2 separate regions of the Homo sapiens genome follow, and region 1 is linked to region 2. The links come from fine-mapping of genetic effects on gene expression. A gene starts in region 2. The other region holds a variant in brackets. All regions are shown on one strand. Distances are between the middles of the regions. Region 1 holds the start of LOC105375123 (a long non-coding RNA gene). Region 2 holds the start of PSMG3-AS1 (PSMG3 antisense RNA 1).

Region 1 (5,367 bases), 22 kb after region 2:
AAACCCAGGGAAGCCTGAGGTGTGATTCAAACTCAGCTCAGGTCTGGAGGCCTGAGAACCAGGGCAGCCGATGGTGGACATCCAGTCCAGGGGCAAGAGATGACGAGATGTCCCGGCTCCAGTGGCGAGGCAGGAAATGAGGGGTGAACTCCTCCTCCCTCTGCTGTCTGTTCTATTCAAGTTCTTGAGGGATTGGATTATGCCCAGCCACTTGGGGAGGGCAGTCCACCTTCCTGAGTCCACAATTCAAATGCTGATCTAATCCAGAAACACTCTCACAGACACAGTGTGTAGTCTGGGCACCCCACAGTGCACTTAAGTGGACACATAAAATTAACCATCCCAGGGAGTGAGATGGGTAAGGGAAGATGGGCCACAGTGGGTGTGTCTCCATGCCTACCCCCACTGTGGGCAGCTGCTGGAGCACACGCCTCAAAGTCTTCCCTGAGGGAGAGGGAGCTGAGGTGTTTATATCCCAGCTCTGTCAGGCATTGGCTGAATGTCCACACTCCTGGATCACCGCCTCTCATCCTCATGATGTCCCATGGTCCTCATTTCACAAGTGAGCTCTGGGTACATGGGGAGCATCAGTCACACCCTGGGTCAGTACCTCAGCTGTCTCTCACATGACATCCTCATTATCCACACTGCAAAGCCAACCATCCCTATGATGGGTTCATTGTGGATCATGACTTAGTGGGTCAAGAGTTTGGAAGTGGCTCAGCTGGGCGGTTCTTCTGCTCCATGTGGCTGCCAGATGGTACCCTGCTGGTGGGCAGTCTGGTCTAGAGGGTCCATGATGGCTTTACTCACATGCCTGGCATCTTGACAGGGACAGCTGGAAGGCAAGGTTCAGCTGGGACTGTCCACAGAGCTCCTCCCTGTGGCCTTTCCAGCATGGTGGTCTCAGGGTAGCTGGACTTCCTGCATGACAGCTCAGGGCTCCCAGAGCTACTGTCCCAAGAGATAGAAGGTGGAAACTGCCAGTCTCTTAGGCTAGGACCAGAAACCAGCACCCCTGCACCCACAGCCTTTTGGTAGTGATGAAATAAACATAAGATTTATCATTTTAATCATTCGTAAGTGGGATTAAATACATTTACAATATTGTGTAACCATCGGCACTGTCTATATCTAAAACTTTTTCATCATCTGCAATAAAAACTCTGTATGCATTAAACCATAACTCTCCATCCTTCTGCCCCTCTTGCCGCTGGTACCCACCATTTTGCTCTACCTCTATGAACAAGGCCATTTCAGACACTTCACATAAGCAGAATCATACAGTATCAGTTTTTTGGCAATTGGCTTATTTCACTTTACATAATGTCCTCGAGTTTCATCCACATTGCAGCACATGACGGCACCTCATTTCCTTTTAAAAATTTTTTATTTATTTATTTTTTATTTATTTATTTTTGAGAATGAGTTTTGCTCTTGTCACCCACCTGGAGTGCAATGGAGCAATCTCAGCTCACTGCAACCTCTACCTCCTGGGTTCAAGCGATTCTCCTCCTTCAGCCTCCTGAGTAGCTGGGATCACAGGCATCCACCAACACACCCAGCTAATTTTTGTATTTTTAGTAGAGGCGGGGTTTCACCATGTTGGCCAGGCTGGTCTTGAACTCCTGACCTCAGGCAGGTGATCCCCCCCGCCTTGGCCTCCCAAAGTGCTGGGATTATAGGCGTGAGCCACTGTGCCCAGCCTTCATTCCTTTTGAAGGCTGAGTAATGCTCCACTGTGTGGAAGGACCACGTTTTGTGTATCCATTCATCGGTCCACGACACTTGGGCTGCTTTCCCCTTTTGGCTGTTGGGGACGGTGCTGCTGTGAACGCGGGTGAACAAATGACTCAGTCCCCACATGCTCTTGATGGAGCCCGGAGCCCACAGATTCAACGGGAGGGGGAACAGCTTCCTCTCAATGGGAGGGGGGCAAAGAATTTGCAGTCTTTTTTCTGTTCATTTGTTTGTTTGTAGACAGGGTCTTGCTCTGTCACCCAGGCTGGAGTGCAGTGGCACCATCAAAGCTCACTGCAGTCTCAACCATCTGGGCTTAAGCGATCCTCCCACTTCAGCCTCCAGAGTAGTTGGGACTACAGGTGCATGCCACCAAGCCTGGCTAATTTTAATGTTTTTGTAGCAAAGGGATCTGGAGATGCTGCCTAGGCTGATCTCAAACTCCTGGACTCAAGGGATTTTCCCACCCCGGCCTCTCAAAGTTGTTGGGATTACAGGTGTGAGTCACCTTTAATTCCCTGCACCGTGCTAGACAGAGATTGCTGAAGACTGTGTTCCCGGGGCCACATAGCAAATCTGCCAAATGGCAGAGGAAAGGGGAGATAGGGGCCCGGGGTCTGGAGAAATGAGGCTGGGTCTGGGGAAGACAGGTCAGAGGCAGCGTGGCTGGGAGATGCAGCTGGGAGAAGTGGAAGGAGAGGGTGGGCGTGGAGGCTTCCGGAGAGGGGTGGGCATGTATCATCCCTCAGGAGTGGAGAGACTTGGGTTGGGTTCAGAGAAAACCAGGCTGGGGAGAACTTGAGAGCCCAGGCGTGAAGGCTGATGTGTGTCTGGGCTTCACCGCCCTGAGCTGTGTGGTCAGGAGCCATCACTGAAACTCTCAAACATCCTCTTTTATAAGATGGGAATAATAATAGGACCCCTTCAAAGGGCGTCGAGGGAATTCAGAGGGAAAGTCTGTGCATACCTCTGACCTGGCTGTGATATTCATTTTAGGAGTCAACTTGACTGGGGTAAGTGGCGCCTAGAGAGCTGGTAAAAAACATCACTTCTGGGCGTGTCTGTGAGGCTGTAATGGCCAGCCGGGTGGGTCCAAGCTCTCTTCAGCAGTCCCCGGGGCTGGCAGCTAGCAGGTCTTGTGGTCTCTGAGGCCTTGGGGGGCACCTCCCGTTGTTTGCCCCCACCTACATCTGCTCAGAACACGCTTCCCACCTCCACCGCCCCTTCTCCCTGCAGGACCACCTGCCTCTTCCTGCCTCCCCGCCCAGCCTGCCTTTTCCTTGCACGACAGCCAAAATCCCATTCCCCCAAGTTTCCAGAAGGGATCAGCACTTGAATCAGCAGACCAAGTAGACAAGTCCACCCTCCCCAATGTGGGCAGGTGTCACCCAAACCACTGAGGCC[T/C]CCCCCGGGACAAAGGCAGGGGAGGGAATTCTCTCTCTTCCTGTGCTGGGACATCCATCTCCTCCTGACTTTGGACATCGAGCTCCTGTTCTCAGGCCTTCAAACTTGGACTGAATTGCTCCACTGGCTTCCCTGGGCCTCCAGCTTGCAGACAGCAGATGGTGGGGCTTCTCAGCCTCTGTGATTCTGTGAGCCGATTCCCATGTAGATCTCTCTCTGTCTCTCTCTCTCTCTCTCTCTGTCTGTCTCTGTCTCTGTGTCTCTGTACACACATGCACACACAGACACACACATATATCCTTTGGTTCTGTGTCTCTGGAGAACCCTGGCTAATCTATGTGCACTTCCCAGCCACCCAGCCTGAGCCAGAGCTGTCTGGGAGGCTGCAGCCTCCCTCGCCGGGAGCCCACATCAGTCAGACGGCTGTGGGTTGGCGGGTGGTGGGGAGTTCCCCTCCCCGCAGCATCCAGCTGGTGGTCCGAGGCGCCGCGGCCCCTCACAGGGCTCTGCCTGCGGGAGGCTGGACTGGTTTCCTTCTTGGGCATCTCAGGATCTCAGCAGAAACTGGGGACTTCCTGAGGTCATGCTTCCGAAGGTGGGACGTCCTCACTGCATGCCACCGGCCGACAGGAAGCATGGCTGGCCCAGCCCTCCGGGGATGGAAATCCACTCTACTCATGACTGGGCAGGAAAAATGGGGCGCGAAGGATGGGAAGAGCCGTGGCGGCCCACCCAGAGACCGGCCAGCTGGCGTCTAGCTACAAGAGGCCATGCAACAGTGGGAGTGGGTGGTGGGGCCGGGCGGGCAGGAGCAGCCCACTCTGCGGGGGTGTGGGGACAGACACGCACTCTATGGAAGTACCTCGGTGGCACCAGGAGTCACTGGGGGCACCCAGCAGGTGCATGCTTAATGCATGATGGGTGAGACGTAAACAGCCAGCCAGGCGGGTCCAAGCTCTCTTCAGTGGTCCCCAGGGCTGGCAGCTGGCAGTGCAGGAAATGGGGTCCCCGAGGCCTTGGGGGGCACCTCCCGTTGTTCGCCCCCACCCACATCCGCTCAGGACACGCTTCCCACCTCCACCGCCCCCTTTCCCTGCAGGGACACCTGCCTCTTCCTGCCTCCCCGCCCAGCCTGCCTTTTTCTTGCACGTCAGCCAAAATCCGATTCCCCCAAGACTCTGCCTCATCAAAGATCCTCTTTCTCATCACCATAATTTTCCATTTGTAGGTTAAGCTGCACCTGGGGTTCTCAGAAATCTGCTAACTCTCTTCCAACTCCCTGAACTCCTCAAACGCCTCGTCCTCCCCTGCTTCTGTTGTTCAGAGGACAGGACGTAGCAGGTGGGGGCGTGGAGAGGGGGCGGCTGGGGAGTGCCTTGTCCGGGAACATCTTCGGAGACCATGTATGGGTAGGGGGGAGCCAGGCTCCTCCATCGAGTCCATAGAACTGTTTACCTGGAAACAGCAAGACCGAGGCAGCTGTGCTCTCACCTTTTTGTCCGTCCTTTCCAGGGGTCTGGAATCTGAGGCTCAGAGCCCTTTCCCAGGAAGAAGAGGGCAACCAGCCCCTTTCAGCATGTCCCGTGCTCCGTGCACCTCTGTGACACCTGGTTACTGTACTCTGAAGCTTCGCACACCCCCGCAGTCTCCATCGTAACCCCAGAAAACCAAGGCTCAGAAGGCGACGGGCCCCAGGGCACCCGGACGGTGACGACGGTGGCTGTGAGATGACAATCTGGGTCTCTGGGATTTCAATTAGGTTTGGAGGATAAAAGGTGTGAATAGGAAGCTATCACACAAGCTAGAACATGCCCGGTCCCAGATCAGGCTGTATTCCTGTGATTTGGTGTGGGTACAGAGGAGAGACTCTCCCTGGGGGTCCAAGTGGACAGTAGCATTGGGGAGGGCATCCCTGGCAGGGGGCATGGCATGGGACAAAGGCTGGGGGGAGGGAGGCTTGGGGCAGATTGAGTGCAGGATGCCTGTGTGTGACCAGGCCGGGCGGCCCCCAGGCCTCGGGGCAGCCAGACCCACCTTGCCTCAGGGCGGTGCTCACAGAGGCTGGGCAGGGAGTTAGCAGGACGCCTGCAGGACCTCCTTGTGAGCCCCCTGCTGGCCAAGGGGAAGGAAGGAGGCCTCTGAACATGGGGAGAGAAGCCAGAGCCCAGCCCTGGCACCTTGGGCCCTTGGGAAGCTGCTATCCAGGCAGGGTGGACTGGAGCC
Region 2 (5,367 bases):
CCTCAGCCCAGAAGGACCCGCGCCTACCCCCACACGGAGGTCATGTTCAGCCACACCCCAGTGAACCCTGGCGACCCACCCCACAGTGCCCTGCCCTCCCGTGCTCCTCTCTCCTGACCTCTGTGCACGCTGCTCCCTTGACAGAAGCGTCCCCCCTCCCTTGCTATGCAGGATTCAGAGGACAGCGTCTGTCCCCAGCTGCAGCACGGTAACGGGCACACACATTAAGATAGTAAGAGATGTCCGCTGACGGCCACCAGCTTCCCAGCAGGCTCAGAGAAGTTACTGGAGTTGGAGCTGGGTGACAGCGTGCACAGGCCCAAGCATGGGATCCACCCAGTTCCTGGGAACTACGTCCCTCTGCGTTTCTGCCCAACAAGCTTCCCTTCATGAAGCCCATGAAACTGAACTCATGCTGTGCGGCTGCAATGTCTCGCTACTGTTAAGGAGGACAGTGAAGTATTTTGGGATACACATTCGCTTTTAATAAAAAAGAAATTTCCTCCTACAATTGATCCTGCACACGGGGGGGCCATGAGCCACGCCTGCTGACTCATTCCTCCAATTCTCAAACACAAGCAACGATTCAGGTCCTGGTGAGAACCATTCACGACTCCTCCGGGACCTGTTCCACCCTCCCCGTCATGCACAGATGATCTTAGTAACCAGAGTAAGAGTCTGCCTGAGACACGAGTCTTTTTTCCTGGCTCCAAGGGCTAGTGCCAAAGTTCCTCCCTCCACCGGGGAGGGAGGTGAGACTTGAGTCCCTGAGTGGGTGTCTGGGTGTTCACGTGTCCTGCTGAGCAGCGCGGGGCGGCTGCCTCCAGGTCACCACACCTGGCACACCCGGATCACCTCCCTCAGCGCCTTCAGCCCCTCCATGCTTTTGTCCTTCACGGCCACGGCGAGGAGGACTGCTCTGTTTCCAGCTTCTTGAGACACAAACGCTACCAGGTTCTTTGCAAAGACATGGATGAGAGGCTGGTAAAGGAAGGAGAAGAAACCATTTTAACTGCAAGAAACCTGGTTTTTTCCTCAATGCTTTCATGAAGTATCCCTTAGGAACCCAGGCAGGCTTCCCACACCACCATTAACCGCCACATAAGTCCATGCAACTGTGACTCAGAGTTCTGGCAGCACTCAGAACACTCCAGTCACGGGCACACTGCTAAAGACCATCACTCCATTCATTTTCCCAGCGCCTTCCGCAGCCCCGCCTCTTCTGGCTCTCTCTCATCTAAAAGAACCCAGGAAAGAGAAGCCTGCAGAAGCGAGTGCTGTCGAATCTCACGTGTGATCTCCACAGAGCACAGCACAGCCAGCCGCCTGCTCACGTAATGTACCATGGCAGGGGAGGCGGCTCGAATGACAAAACTGCTGCTTCTGCTTGTCTGCTGGATAAAATGCCTGCGGGCTGGACAAAGCATCCACTGAGGGCAAGCAGGGCGCCTTGAGACCCACAAATGCCCGGAAAATGCTATCGCTGTAGGGGTATTTGTCCGCCAGATGCCCCATGTCCTTACTGACAAATCACAGCCACTGGAGAGGTTTATGCTCCTCCCTGGGGGTCCCTTCCTGACCACTTTATTATTATTATTATTATTATTATTATTAAAGACAGAGTCTTGCTCTCTCACCCAGGCTGGAGCGCAGTGGCACAATCATGGCTCACTGCAGCCTCAACCTCCAGGGCTCAAGCCATCCTCCCACCTCAGCCTCCCAAGTAGCTGGGAGCACAGGCACACACCACTAGGCCCAGCTAATTTTTTGTTTCCTTTTCTTTTCCTTTTTTTTTTAAGACCAAGTCTCTATCTGTTACCCAGGCTGGAGTGCTGTGGCACGATCTTAGCTCACTGCAACCTCCGCCTCTCGGGTTCAAGCGATTCTTCTGCCTCAGCCTCCTGAGTAGCTGAGATTACAGGCATGTGCCACCACACCCAGCTAATTTTTATATTTTTCGTAGAAATGGGGTTTCCCCATGTTGGCCAGGCTGGTCTGGAACTTCTGACCTTAAGTGATCTGCCCGCCTCAGCCTCCCAAAGTGCTGGGATTACAGGTGTGAGCCACTGCACCCAGCCTCTCTCTATATATATATTTTGTGTAGGCACTTGTTTTTTTGTAGTGACTTGTGTGTGTGTTGTTGTGTTGCCCAGGCTGGTTTCAAACTCCTGGCCTCAAGCGATCTGCCCGCCTAGGCCTCTGAAAGTGCTAGGGTTACAGGCGTGAGCCACAGTTCCCGGCCAATCCACTTTACCTCATCCTGCCCCAGAAGGACTTTTGTGGTGAGCACAGGCTTGCTGACGTCACTGGCCACGCTGCTGGGCTCCAGGGAGACCAGGGTGCCCATCTTCCCAAACTGGGTCACCACCACCAGGATGTGACTGCTGAAGGCCGTACACACCACCTGGGTGGGGACCCCGCACACCACCTCCGTCTTCTGCTTCGATATCACCAACGGCGTGTCTTCCATGGCGGGGCTCTGCAGTGGCAGCTTTAATTTAGGTTAAAAAGAAAGGGGAAAAAAAGGAGTCAATCAAACAGTACAGCCTTGGGGCTCCCAAAAAAGTAGCACGGGGCATTGAAACGGAAACGCAAGGAGGCCCATTCAAAAGAAGGGGCCAGGCGCGGTGGCTCATGCCTGTCATCCCGGCACTTTGGGAGGCCGAGACAGGACGATCGTTGAGGCCAGGAATTCGAGACCAGCCTGGCCAACATAGCGAGACCCCCATCTCTACCAAAAAAAAAAAAAAAAAAAACCAGCAGGGCGCGCCTGTGGTCCCAGTTACTCAGGAGGCTGAGGCGGGAAGATCGCTTCAGCCCGGGAGGTCGAGGCTGCGGTGAGCCGTGATCACACCATTGCATTACAACCCGGGCGGTAGAGCGAGACCCTGTCCGTAAAAAAATAAAACAGAAGCAGGAGCGGGGCCGCCCATAGAGACCGCGCCTGGGGCTTTCTGGGTTAGGGGATCGACTTGCACGTTCACACTGCCAGGCCGGGCAGTGGCTTCCCGCCCCTCGGCCTCGCCGCCGCCCCGGCCCTGCAGCCGCGGCCCGGGACCCCCACGACACGCGGTGCCGAGGCCGGCCGGGCTACTGGGGACGCAGCCGCCCGGGGAAGCCCGCGGGTACCCGCGCTCACCAAGCCGGCGCCGCGCCCGGAAGTGGCTCTGCGTGCGCCACGCGGGCCCGCCCCGTCCGCGGGTTCCGTCCACCTTCCGGAAGTCAGGGCCGCGGCGCTTCTGGTCCCGGAGACTTGGGGCTCCCGGGCTTCTGAGCGGCTCGGGTTCCGCGCTGCCGGCAGGGCTTGGGGGCGCCTTAGAGCCGAACCCCGTTTTTTCAGGAAAGGGCGCTGCGACCACCCCCGTCCCGGGCCTCAGCCCCTCTGCTGCAGACCCTCGGGATCGTCGCTGGTAGGAGCTCTGTCCCCCGTGTCTGTGTCCAGGACCCCCGAAGCGCCGCGCCTAGGAACCCCCTAGCGCTGGGAGCCCGGCCCTGCTCGACCACGGGCTTTGGGCTGGAGGCGTCATCGTCGCCACAGCGAACGCTTATTTGGCACCGAGTGTCCGCCAGGCATCGCTCTAAGCGCTTTATACCCATAACTCACTTCATCTCAGCCACCCGGTTCCGTAGAAGCGTTTCATCCGCGTTTTACAGACGTGTGCAGGTGCAGAGAGCTCGGCCAGGCTCAGGCGGCGGGCGGGCTGGGGTGGGCTCCGACCGTCCCTCGGGCGCTCCGTGACACGAAGCCCCGGCCAAGGCCAAGAAGGGGGCCAGCCCCACCCTGAAGCGGGATGAGTTCTGGTTCCTCCCAGGGACCCCCTCACTCCCTACTGCTCACTCTCAGTTTCTCCAAGCTGGAAGGTTTTTTGTTTTGTTTTGTTTGAGACGGAGTCTTGCTGTGTCACCCAGGCTGGAGTGCAGTGGCGCGATCTCGGCTCACTGCAGCCTCCGCCTCCCTGGTTCAAGCAATTCTCCTGCCTCAGCCTCCTGTGTAGCTGGGATTACAGGCGTGCGCCACCAGGCCCGGCTAACTTTTTAAATTTTTAGTAGAGATGGGGTTTCACCATGTCGGTCAGGCTGGTCTTGAACTCCTGACCTCAGGTGATCTGCCTTCCTCGGCCTCCCAAAGTGCTGGGATTACAGGCGTGAGCCACCGCGCCCCGCTGCTGGAAGTTTTATTGGTAGGGTCGGACATCTTGGTAGCAGAGGCTGAAAGTGATTGGAGCCTCCAGAGCCTTCCTCGGGGTGGGGCGTTTAACATCCCTTCAGAACCCCACCCTCGGAGGCCTTACTGTCGTTTCCTGACAACCATGTCAAGGCCGTATTTTCTGTCTATATTACCAGAAAGGGGTCCCGATCCAGACCCCAAGAGAGAATTGAGGGCGAGTCCACAAAGTGAAAGCAAGTTTATTAGAAAAGTAAAGGAATTGAGGCAGGAAAACAGGGTCTGGAGGCAGGGAACACTTCAGCTATGACAGGAAATACCCTCTCCATAGGGTGTACACTGAGTAAATGATTTTGTAACTTTATTTCATCCTCTTTATTTACATAGGGCGTACACCAAGTAACCAGTAGAAACCCCTAGAGGGTATTTAAACCTCACAAGTTCTGTAATGGGGCCCTGAGCCTCTATGCTTTGGCCGCCCCCACACCATGGAATGTACTTTCATTTTCAAAAAATTTCTGCTTTTGTTGCTTCATTCTTTTTTTGCTTTGTGCATTTTTTTTTTTTTGAGACAGAGTCTCTGTTGTCCATGCTGGAGTGCAGTGGCGTGATCCTCACTGCAACCTCTGCCTCCCGGGTTCAAGCAATTCTCCTGCCTCAGCCTCCTGAGTAGCTGAGATTACAGACGTGCGTCACCATGCCCGGCTAACTTTTGTGTTTTTAGTAGAGACGAGGTTTCGCCATGTTGGCCAGGCTGGTCTTGAACTCCTGACCTCAGGTGATCTGCCCGCCTCGGCCTCCCAAAGTGCTGGGATTATAGGTGTGAGCCACCGCGCCCGGTGGCTTTGTGCATTTTGTCCAATTCTTTGTTCAAGATGCCAAGAACCTGGACACCCTCCACCAGTAACAGAATAAAGAATGGCTACTCCATAGGCAGAGCAGCATGGGCTGCTGGTTGCCCATTTTTGTGGTTATTTCTTGATGATATGCTAAACAAGGGGTGGATTATTCGTGCCTTACCTTTTTAAACCCTTTAGGGTAACGTCCTGGCATTGCTATGGCATTTGTAAACTTACGGCGCTGGTGGGAGTGTAGCAGCTGGGACGACCAGAGGTCACACTCATCGCCATGTTGGTTTGGTGGGTTTTGGTCAGCTTCTTTACTGCAAACTGTTTTATCAGTAAGGTCTTTATGACCTGTAG

The links. PIP is the estimated chance that this variant, and not a neighbour inherited with it, causes the effect. A credible set is the group of variants that fine-mapping cannot tell apart.
Region 1: its variant is the best candidate, but not a certain one, in a credible set for the expression of PSMG3-AS1 in cerebral cortex (GTEx, PIP 0.69).

The regions. Positions count from the first base shown.
Region 1 is chr7:1,588,447-1,593,813 of GRCh38, forward strand. It overlaps PSMG3-AS1 (PSMG3 antisense RNA 1), which reads left to right. Exons shown (of 5, transcript NR_027329.1): 5 at 1-1,180. LOC105375123 (a long non-coding RNA gene) reads left to right here and starts at 3,993. Exons shown (of 8, transcript XR_001745048.2): 1 at 3,993-4,485; 2 at 4,657-4,866. RefSeq lists an enhancer at 5,294-5,343. The variant T/C (reference allele first, on the strand shown) is at 3,145.
Region 2 is chr7:1,566,870-1,572,236 of GRCh38, forward strand. It overlaps PSMG3-AS1 (PSMG3 antisense RNA 1), which reads left to right and starts at 3,204. Exons shown (of 5, transcript NR_027329.1): 1 at 3,204-3,410. It overlaps PSMG3 (proteasome assembly chaperone 3), which reads right to left and starts at 3,163. Exons shown (of 2, transcript NM_032302.4): 1 at 2,255-3,163; 2 at 463-981. The coding sequence starts at 2,470. The coding sequence ends at 829. RefSeq lists enhancers at 49-617, 444-738, 618-1,186, 2,893-3,461, 4,085-4,154 and 1 more and silencers at 2,835-3,264, 3,705-3,784.